2 linked regions of the Homo sapiens genome follow. The protein of the gene in region 2 interacts with the protein of the main gene of each other region in a biochemical or structural test. Each region holds a gene or a part of one and is shown on either strand. Other genes may lie near its edges. The genes, in order: ARCN1 and COPG1.

Evidence for each region.
Region 1: the proteins of COPG1 (region 2) and ARCN1 form a complex in vitro, tested with the Homo sapiens proteins (one study listed by BioGRID).

The regions. Positions count from the first base shown.
Region 1 is NC_000011.10:118,570,953-118,575,442, reverse strand, and holds the start of ARCN1 (coatomer subunit delta), read right to left. Parts: upstream 3,035-4,490; 5' UTR 2,896-3,034; coding exon 2,893-2,895; intron 2,848-2,892; exon of another isoform or gene 1-2,847. UniProt on the Homo sapiens protein: Component of the coatomer, a cytosolic protein complex that binds to dilysine motifs and reversibly associates with Golgi non-clathrin-coated vesicles, which further mediate biosynthetic protein transport from the ER, via the Golgi up to the trans Golgi network.
Region 2 is NC_000003.12:129,262,924-129,266,735, reverse strand, and holds part of COPG1 (coatomer subunit gamma-1), read right to left. Parts: intron 2,833-3,812; coding exon 2,737-2,832; intron 1,188-2,736; coding exon 944-1,187; intron 1-943. UniProt on the Homo sapiens protein: The coatomer is a cytosolic protein complex that binds to dilysine motifs and reversibly associates with Golgi non-clathrin-coated vesicles, which further mediate biosynthetic protein transport from the ER, via the Golgi up to the trans Golgi network.

The sequences.
Region 1 (4,490 bases), on a different chromosome or scaffold from region 2:
TTAAAACACACACACACACACACACACACACCCGTTATCAGTTTCTGCAGTGAACTTCTATATGAAGACATAAATAGATGGCAAATCAATGGAAACTCAAGAGAATCATTTTCTTTCTTTGCTGTCCCTCAAAACACAATTAAAAAGATACATAAATAATACAGGGGCCGGGCGCCATGGCTCACACCTATAATCCCAGCACTTTGGGAGGCCGAGGCGGGCAGATCACGAGGTGAGGAGATCGAGACTATCCTGGCTAACATGGTGAAACCCCGTATCTACTAAAAATACAAAAAAGTAGTTGGGCGTGGTGGCAGGCGCCTGCAGTCCCAGCTACTCAGGAGGCTGAGGCAGGAGGATAGCTTGAACCCGGGAGGCAGAAGTTGCAGTGAGCTGAGATTGTGCCACTGCACTCCAGCCTGGAGACAGAGCGAGAATCCGTCTCGAAAACCAAACAAACAAGAAAAAAAGTCAGAACATGTTCTCATTAATTTGCAGAATACAAAAAAAAGATCAAATCAAGGCCCGCATGCCTACAGTCCCAGCTACTTGGGATATGGAGGCGGGAGGATTGCTTGAGGCTAGGAGTTCTAGGCCGCAGTGCACTATGATAGCGCCTGTGAATAGCTACTGCCCTCCAGCCTGGGCAACATAGTGAGACCCTGTCTCTTTAAAAAAAAAAAATCAAAAGATGCCTTTCTTTGTACTTTATTTTATGATGAAGTCATGAGAAAGCATTTGTTTCTGCATTTGTTCACTTATTTATCTATTGGAACTTTGCAGTCTAGGACATTCTGCACTTCAATAACTAAAGCCAAAGGGAATTTATTTTTTAAAAAATCAATGTTTACGTACTGATATCTGCAACTTACTTTGAAATGTATATTTTTTTTTAATGGAGAGAGGGATGGATGGATGATTAGATGCATGATAAAATATAGTGAAATGTTAGTTATAGAATCTAGTTGGTGGTTATATGGGTATTCACTACAAAGTTCTTTCAACTTTTCCAGATGTTGGAAAATTTCATAATGAAATGTTGAGCTAAAATAAACGCTGGAAATTTTGATACAACTTTTAGATAAAAATTTCACCCTATCTGGACATTTCTACTGTCCAGGGATCTGTTTGTAAAGGAGCAGGACCCAAAAACATTACACAGAAATCATACCAATGTCTTAACACTCTACAGAGCAGAATGTACTGAGATAAATTGTTCTCCAGAGTACACAAATCTGTGGGTATCTGGATCATGTTAAGTCCCAAATAATTCAGAAATATGTGACACAACTCTATGTATACGTACACATGTCAAAATAGCATGCAAAAGTTATATTTTATATATATCACGTAGGGCTTTACCATCCCTCAGTTATCAATGAATTAAAAATACTAAGTTCCAAGAACCTTTTAACAAAGAATATTTTTAGAAAGATTACCTTTATCTGGTTTATATAATACAAGACCTTAACTTTACTATTAAAATAAAAATATGCTCTAAAATGCATTATTAATTCCAGGGTGTAAACGGGAACTGAGTTTCAAAATCACTAACCAAATACAGAACCTCCTGGAGAAACTGAAAATACAAGTTTCTGGAAATTTTGTGTCCAACACAAAAATTTTAGGAGGCAAACCTGTTTGATGCAATTTATATACCTGAGGCTGAGAAAAGCTGTTCAGTGGCCTAAAGTCCAAGCATGAATTCCCCCCATTATCCAAGTTCTTATCTAAAGGGTTGTCAATAGAACTTATTAGGATTGCCACCAAATTACATTCTGCCATCTCTCAGGTACACTGGACGATGTTTTAAATCAAGTTATCTATTGACAAAAGAATAAAAAAGAACAGAACAGAACATCCTTCAAAAGACTAAAGGACATAAGGTGCACTGAAAAATAAATTACTAGCTTTTTTGAAACCAAAGAATGTCTACTACTTCATGAATATCCACAAATCACAGCGATAAAGGAAGATTGAGTGATGTCAGCAGTTCTGATTTCCTCCATCCTCAACCACATTAACCTTTCTCATCCTTGTAACAGATGAGTATACAAAGATAACGCATGGGAAGGCAAGTAACTGGTCTCGGAGGCTAACCCATCCCTCTTACTCCACCTCCTGTGAGACATCTGACTACGACATGCCACATACACATTTTTCTTCACCTGGACAATAAGTTCCTTGAAGGCAAACCCTGTGTTCTCTGGAACCTGCTCACATTTTCCCAGTGGTCTACACAGTGTATGTACCCCGAGTCACACTAACAAATGGACACAAGTGAGTTCTGCGGAAGTAGTGGAAGGTTTCAGAGACACTTGGGTCCTATACATTAGTGTTAGAAGTTACTCCTTTCCGCTCTGTGTCTCCATTTCCCCCTTCTGAACAAAAAGAAAAATTTCTGGACACCAGTGGATTTGCATTTCGAGTTATCAACGGCCTAGCAAACACCGGGGGTGGGAGACAAGCTCTGATTAACAGAAGGACCAGAACCTCCGGAGACAGGCCCAGCCTGCTGAGCCTAAGCGCCAGGGAACCGGCGGGACAGCATCAGTTCCGAGGTCCGCAGCCTGGGACCCGCACCACCACCACGAAGTTCTCGCAGAGCAAAAACGCCGGGCCGTCTCAGGGGCAGGTCCCAGCAAACGAGGGAGTCCAGCTGGTTGGGGGGTGGTGCGGAAGCGGGCACGACGACAGATGGACTGGAGTCAGCTCCATCGGATCTCCAGGAGACCGGGCACAGGAGGCCACACTGCTCCCCGAGCCCGGAGCAAAAGCACTCTGCCCTAGACCCTCAGGGCGGGGCTCCTCCGGCCCCTGCCCCAGGCCCGCCGACAAGGAGAGACGGTGAGGCTCGGACCCCAGGAGTTCGGGTCCTGGCTCGGATCTTACCATGGTGAGGGCGGTGGTGGGGCGCGCCCGCACTCCGGCTCCACTGGGGATAGGGGTAGGGTCTGGGGAACGGGAGCACCAGCAGCTCTGGACCTGCTGCCCCCTTGACAGGAACCGCTGCCGCTTCGCCTCTTGCCAAGATGGCGGCCCCAAGCCACGTCTTCAACCGGAAGCGGCGCAGGTCAAAGGGCGGGGGGGGGGGCGGGGCCTGTGGGCTGGGGAAATTGAGGGTACCCCGCTCCGGTTACGATTAAGCCCAGGAGGTGTAGGGGGCGTTCACCCTCCAGCTGTGGAACCTCGTATCTCTCCCCTTTCACTGTCATCGCCTTCATTTATTTTGCGTCACATCTTACAGTTTAACAAGCCGCTGGCACAGCCACTATTATTTAATATACAGGATAACCTGTGTGCCTAAAAGACCAGTATCCGGAATATATAAAGAACTTTTTTTTTTTTTTTTTGAGATGGAGTCTCACTCTGTCGCCCAGGCTGGAGTGCAATGGCGTGATCTCGGCTCACTGCAACCTCCACTTCCCAGGTTCAAGCGATTCTTCTGCCTCAGCCTCCGGAGTAGCTGGGATTACAGGCACGCGCCACACCACGCTCGGCTGTTTTTTGTATTTTTAGTTGAGACGGGGTTTCACCATGTCGGCCAGGCTAGCCTCAAACTTCTGACCCCAAGTGATCCGCCCGCCTCAGCCTCCCAATGTTGGGATTACAGGCGTCAGCCACCGCGCCTGGCCTAAGAACTCTTATAACTCAGCAATAAAAAGACAAATACAGTATTCCTGTCTAAAAATGGGCTTCATCTGCAAAATGGAGGGAGTAGAAAACACAAAATTAAAATGAGCAAAAGATTTGAATAGATATGTGTCCAAAGAAGATATATAAATGGCTAATATGCACATTAAGAAATGTTGAATATCCTTAGGGAAATGGAAATCAGACCCGTGGTGAGACGTCATTTCACACTCACTAGGATGGCTATCATAATAATTGTTGGTGAGGATGAATGTAAAATAGTGCAGCCACGTTGGAAAAGAGTTTGGCAGTTCCTCAAAAAGTTAAACAAAATTACCACATGACTGAGCAATTCCACTCATAGGTACATACCCAGGAGAACTGAATATATGTCAACACAAAAATGTGTACTCTAATGTTCATAGCAGCATTATTCATAGTAGCCAAAAAGTGGAGACAATCCAAACAAATCCATTCATCAATAGATGTGGCATATATATGCAATGGAATATTATTTAGTCACAAAAAGGAATAAAGTACTGACATGCTACAATATGGATGAACCTTGAGAATATTATGTGAAAAAAGACGGATACAATGGGGCACTCATATATGATTCCATTAATACGAAAGATCCAGAATAGAAGAAAATCCACAGAGACAGAAACTAGCTTAGTGATTTCCAGGGGCTCAGGAAGGGTAGGAATAGAGAGTGACAGTTAATTAGTGTAAGATTTATTTCTGGAATAATTAAAACATTCTGGAATTAAGCCAGGCATGGTGGCATGATCCTAGAGTCCCAGCTACTTGGGAGGCTGAGTTGGGAGGATGGCTTGAGACCAGGGGTTAAAGGTCAG
Region 2 (3,812 bases):
ACAGAAGCTGGCTATAATGTAAAGCTCCTCACCTTCCATATCCAAATGGCGTCAATTTGCAGTTAAGGCTCAGAATAATAAAAATGAGAAAGGGAACAATTACTTAAAGATCATTTATTGCTGAAAGAAGAAAATCTGTCCAGTGGGGGCATGAAAAGAAATTAAAAATAAAGAATAGGAAGGTTGCTCACTGAATTGTAAACTTTATATAAATGGGTGAATTTTATGGCATGTGAATTATATCTCAACAAAGCTTTTTGTTTTTTAGCTAAACATCAACATACAGTGAAAGTTAAAAAAAAAATCACTTAAGGCAAGGCACAGTGGCTCTGTAATCCCAGCACTTTCAGAGACTGAGGCAGGAGGATAGCTTGAGCCCAGGAGTTCGTGACCAGCCTGGACAACATAGCAAGACCCCGTCTCAATTAAAAAAATACTTAAAAAATTATAGGGGTTAAGAACCATGGCCGAGCACGGTGGCTCACGCCTGTAATCCCAGCACTTTTGGGAGGCCGAGGCGGGCAGATGATGAGGTCAAGAGATCGAGACAATCCTGGCCTACATGGTGAAATCCCATCTCTACTAAAAATACAAAAATTAGCTGGGCATGATGGCACACACCTGTAGTCCCACCTACTCGGGAGGCTGAGGCAGGAGAATCGCTTGAACCCGGGAGGCGGAGGTTGCAGTGAGCTGAGATTGCGCCACTGCATTCCAGCCTGGTGACAGAGCGAGATTCCATCTCAAAAAAAAAAACAAAACAAAAAACAAAGAACTGTTCAACTAGATGACATGTAAGGTCCTGCCTACAATATTATGAAAAACAGCTTGTGCAGCAAGAACACTGAGTGCACAAATCCCCACTGGAGGCTCAGGTCCCTTTGCTGGGACATTTATTCAAGGGTAAGCTAAGTTTCCAAGTTCAGCCCTGGCTCAGACCTACCTGCCCGGACCTCCTCATGCTCCAAGACCACTCGGTTATAGATGAAGCGGATGTACTTTGAGGGATTGGTGGTCTTGGGCCCCTCCTGGCCCAGGAGATGTAGAATACGGGTGGCCAGCACTGTGAACTCGCAGTCCTCGATGAACTCGCACAGATGTGACAGCCCTGTCTCCTTGCTCTCTGAGTTCTCTTCAATGATGCTGATGATGCAGTCCACGATAGCGCGCTTATACTCAAAGCCACCCTGCAGAGAGAAGCTGAGCTAAGCAAGGAGCCTGCTCTCTCCAGAAAAGAGTTGAAGACCTGAGCTGGACCAAGGACAGTTGTCCAAACACAGAACTTGGAGACAGGGCACTTGGTTCTCTGGGCCTCTATCACTCTTTCCTGTCAAACAAAAGGCTGGTCAGGTGCAGTGGCTCACACCTATAATCCCAGCACTTTGAGAGGCTGAGGTGGGTGGACCACTTGAGCTCAGGAATTCGAAATCAGCCTGGGCATCATGGAGAGACCCCATCACTACAAAAAATAGAAAAATTAGTTGGGCATGGTGGTGCATGCCTATAATTCCAGCTGCTTGGGGGTCTGAGGTGAGACGATTGCTTGATCCCAGGAGGTTGAGGCTGCAGTGAGCCGTGATCACACCACCACACTCCAGCCTGGGTGACAGATGGAGGCCGGGCGCAGTGGCTCACGTCTGTAATCCCAGCACTTTGGGAGGCCAAGGTGGGTGGATCACCTGAGGTCAAGAGTTTGAGACCAGCCTGACCAACATGGTAAAACCCTGTCTCTACTAAATATAAAAAATTAGCCGGGCGTGGTGGGGGGCACCTGTAGTCCTAGGTACTCGGGAGGCTGAGGCAGGAGAATCACTTGAACCCAGGAGGTGGAGGTTGCAGTGAGCCAAGACCTCACCACTGCACTCCAGCCTGGGCAGCAGAACGAGACTCCTACTCAACAGAAAAAAAAAAAAACTGCTATCATGCATACAGTGTCTCCAAAGTGCTAGGCCTGGCCAGGCATGATGGCTCACACCTGTAATCCCAGAACTTGGGTGGCTAAGGTGGGAAGATCACTTATAGCCAGGAGTTTGAGACCAGCCTGGGCAACCCAGCAAGACCCCATCTCTACTTAAAAAAAACAAACACAATCACCAAAGTGCTGGGCCCATTAGCTGACAACTCACTAAACATTAGTGCCCTTCTACAACAACATTCTTGGGAAACGCAAAGACACTCAAGGCAATGGCTCCTCTACTGCCTAGTCCATGGGCCACTCTGGGGCTGGGTGAAAGGGGTACCATGTATCTGAGGAACAAATCTACTCCATGAACATCTGCTATTGCTCCTAAGAATTAACCCATTTTGTTGAGACGTCCAAGAAAGGTGGCATAAGTGAATCAGTAATTCACGTCGGGAACAGAAATAGAACCAATGTCGTATTATTAGCACCGGTTTCACAAGAAACCACTCCTAGAGCTCCTGGAATGGTCTAGAATATTTCTGCACTAGAGTCCACCAGAAAAGAACATGCATTTTCCCATCTTCTGCACAAGCATCACCTCAGGACATCCAGTTTTTAAAGTCAGGCTGGTGAGTCATAGTTATTACTGTAATTACTAGCAATTGGTACGTGTTTACATGTCCACAAGGAGTTTAAAGGGTTGCAGGCACCATGAAAACCAGTTGGTTAACAGGCTAACATAAGCACACGCACAAAGCTGAGCATGGAGCCAGTGGTCAGGTCACTCCCTGCACCAGGAGACCTGGCATCCCCCGAATGCCCCTGACTCTTACCTCTTCCCGCAGCATGGTGAACAGGAAGTTCATAAGGACGGCGTGTTTGCGAGGATATTTCTGACACAGGGCACTGATGGCCTGGACAACCACCACCTAAATGAAATAGACGTGCATGAGCAGCAGGCCCTGCCACCAAGATGGGGTGACTCAGTTCCCTGAGTGCCCACTGAGTCCTTCCTTAGGTAAGGCCAGGCCTTGGGCATGACACAAGGGCAAGGAGACCAGAGGAACTCAACTCCACGCTTGAAGCTTGAAGGGCACAATCCCTGAGCCCACCCAAGGCAGTGCCAACAGCCCCAGTGTCAGACTCTCAGACTCTGGGTTCCCCAAACTCTGCTCTTCTACTCAGGCTTCTTAAGTCTCCGAGTCCCCTCCACCCAACCTGTCCTGCTTCTCTCCCTACCACTGGCTCCCACTGATGGTTCCCACCCATCATCTCCTCTGGCTCCTTTTTGGTTAAGCCTGTCTCTGGGGTATTCTGTCCTTGGCCGCTTCTCTTCTCACAGTCTCTTCAGCAATCTTATCCCCTCCCATGGCTTTAACCGCCTCTTATATGCCACTGACTCCCAATATTTATCTCCTGTCTGAGCTTAAGACCTGCCTTTTCCAACTGCCTGTCAGACAACTCCACCTGGCGCCCACAGCACTTCAAACTCCACATGTCTGCAACCACAAACATCTCCATCTCCTTCCCCCTCCCTCATCCAATACCCCATCTTTTCCTCCCCTGCAAACTAGTCAAGAGCACCACTGTCAGCTCAAAGTAGAAAATGGCATCATCTCTGTTGACATCCACCCCTCAACCCTCACACCAACCCTGCCAACAGGCATTATCCCTCAAAAAGCTCTTGCACTGTCCCACCTCTCCTACTCCCGCCGGTTCAGGCACCATCCTCTCCTTCTGAATTACTCCAACAGTCTCTTTACCCAGTCACCCCTCCACTCTGCTCCAGAAGGACTCTTTTTTTTTTTTTTTTTTTTTGAGACGGAGTCTCGCTCTGTCTGGAGTGCAGTGGCACGATCTCGGCTTACTGCAACCTCCACCTCCAGGCCAGGTCAAGCGACTCTCCTAC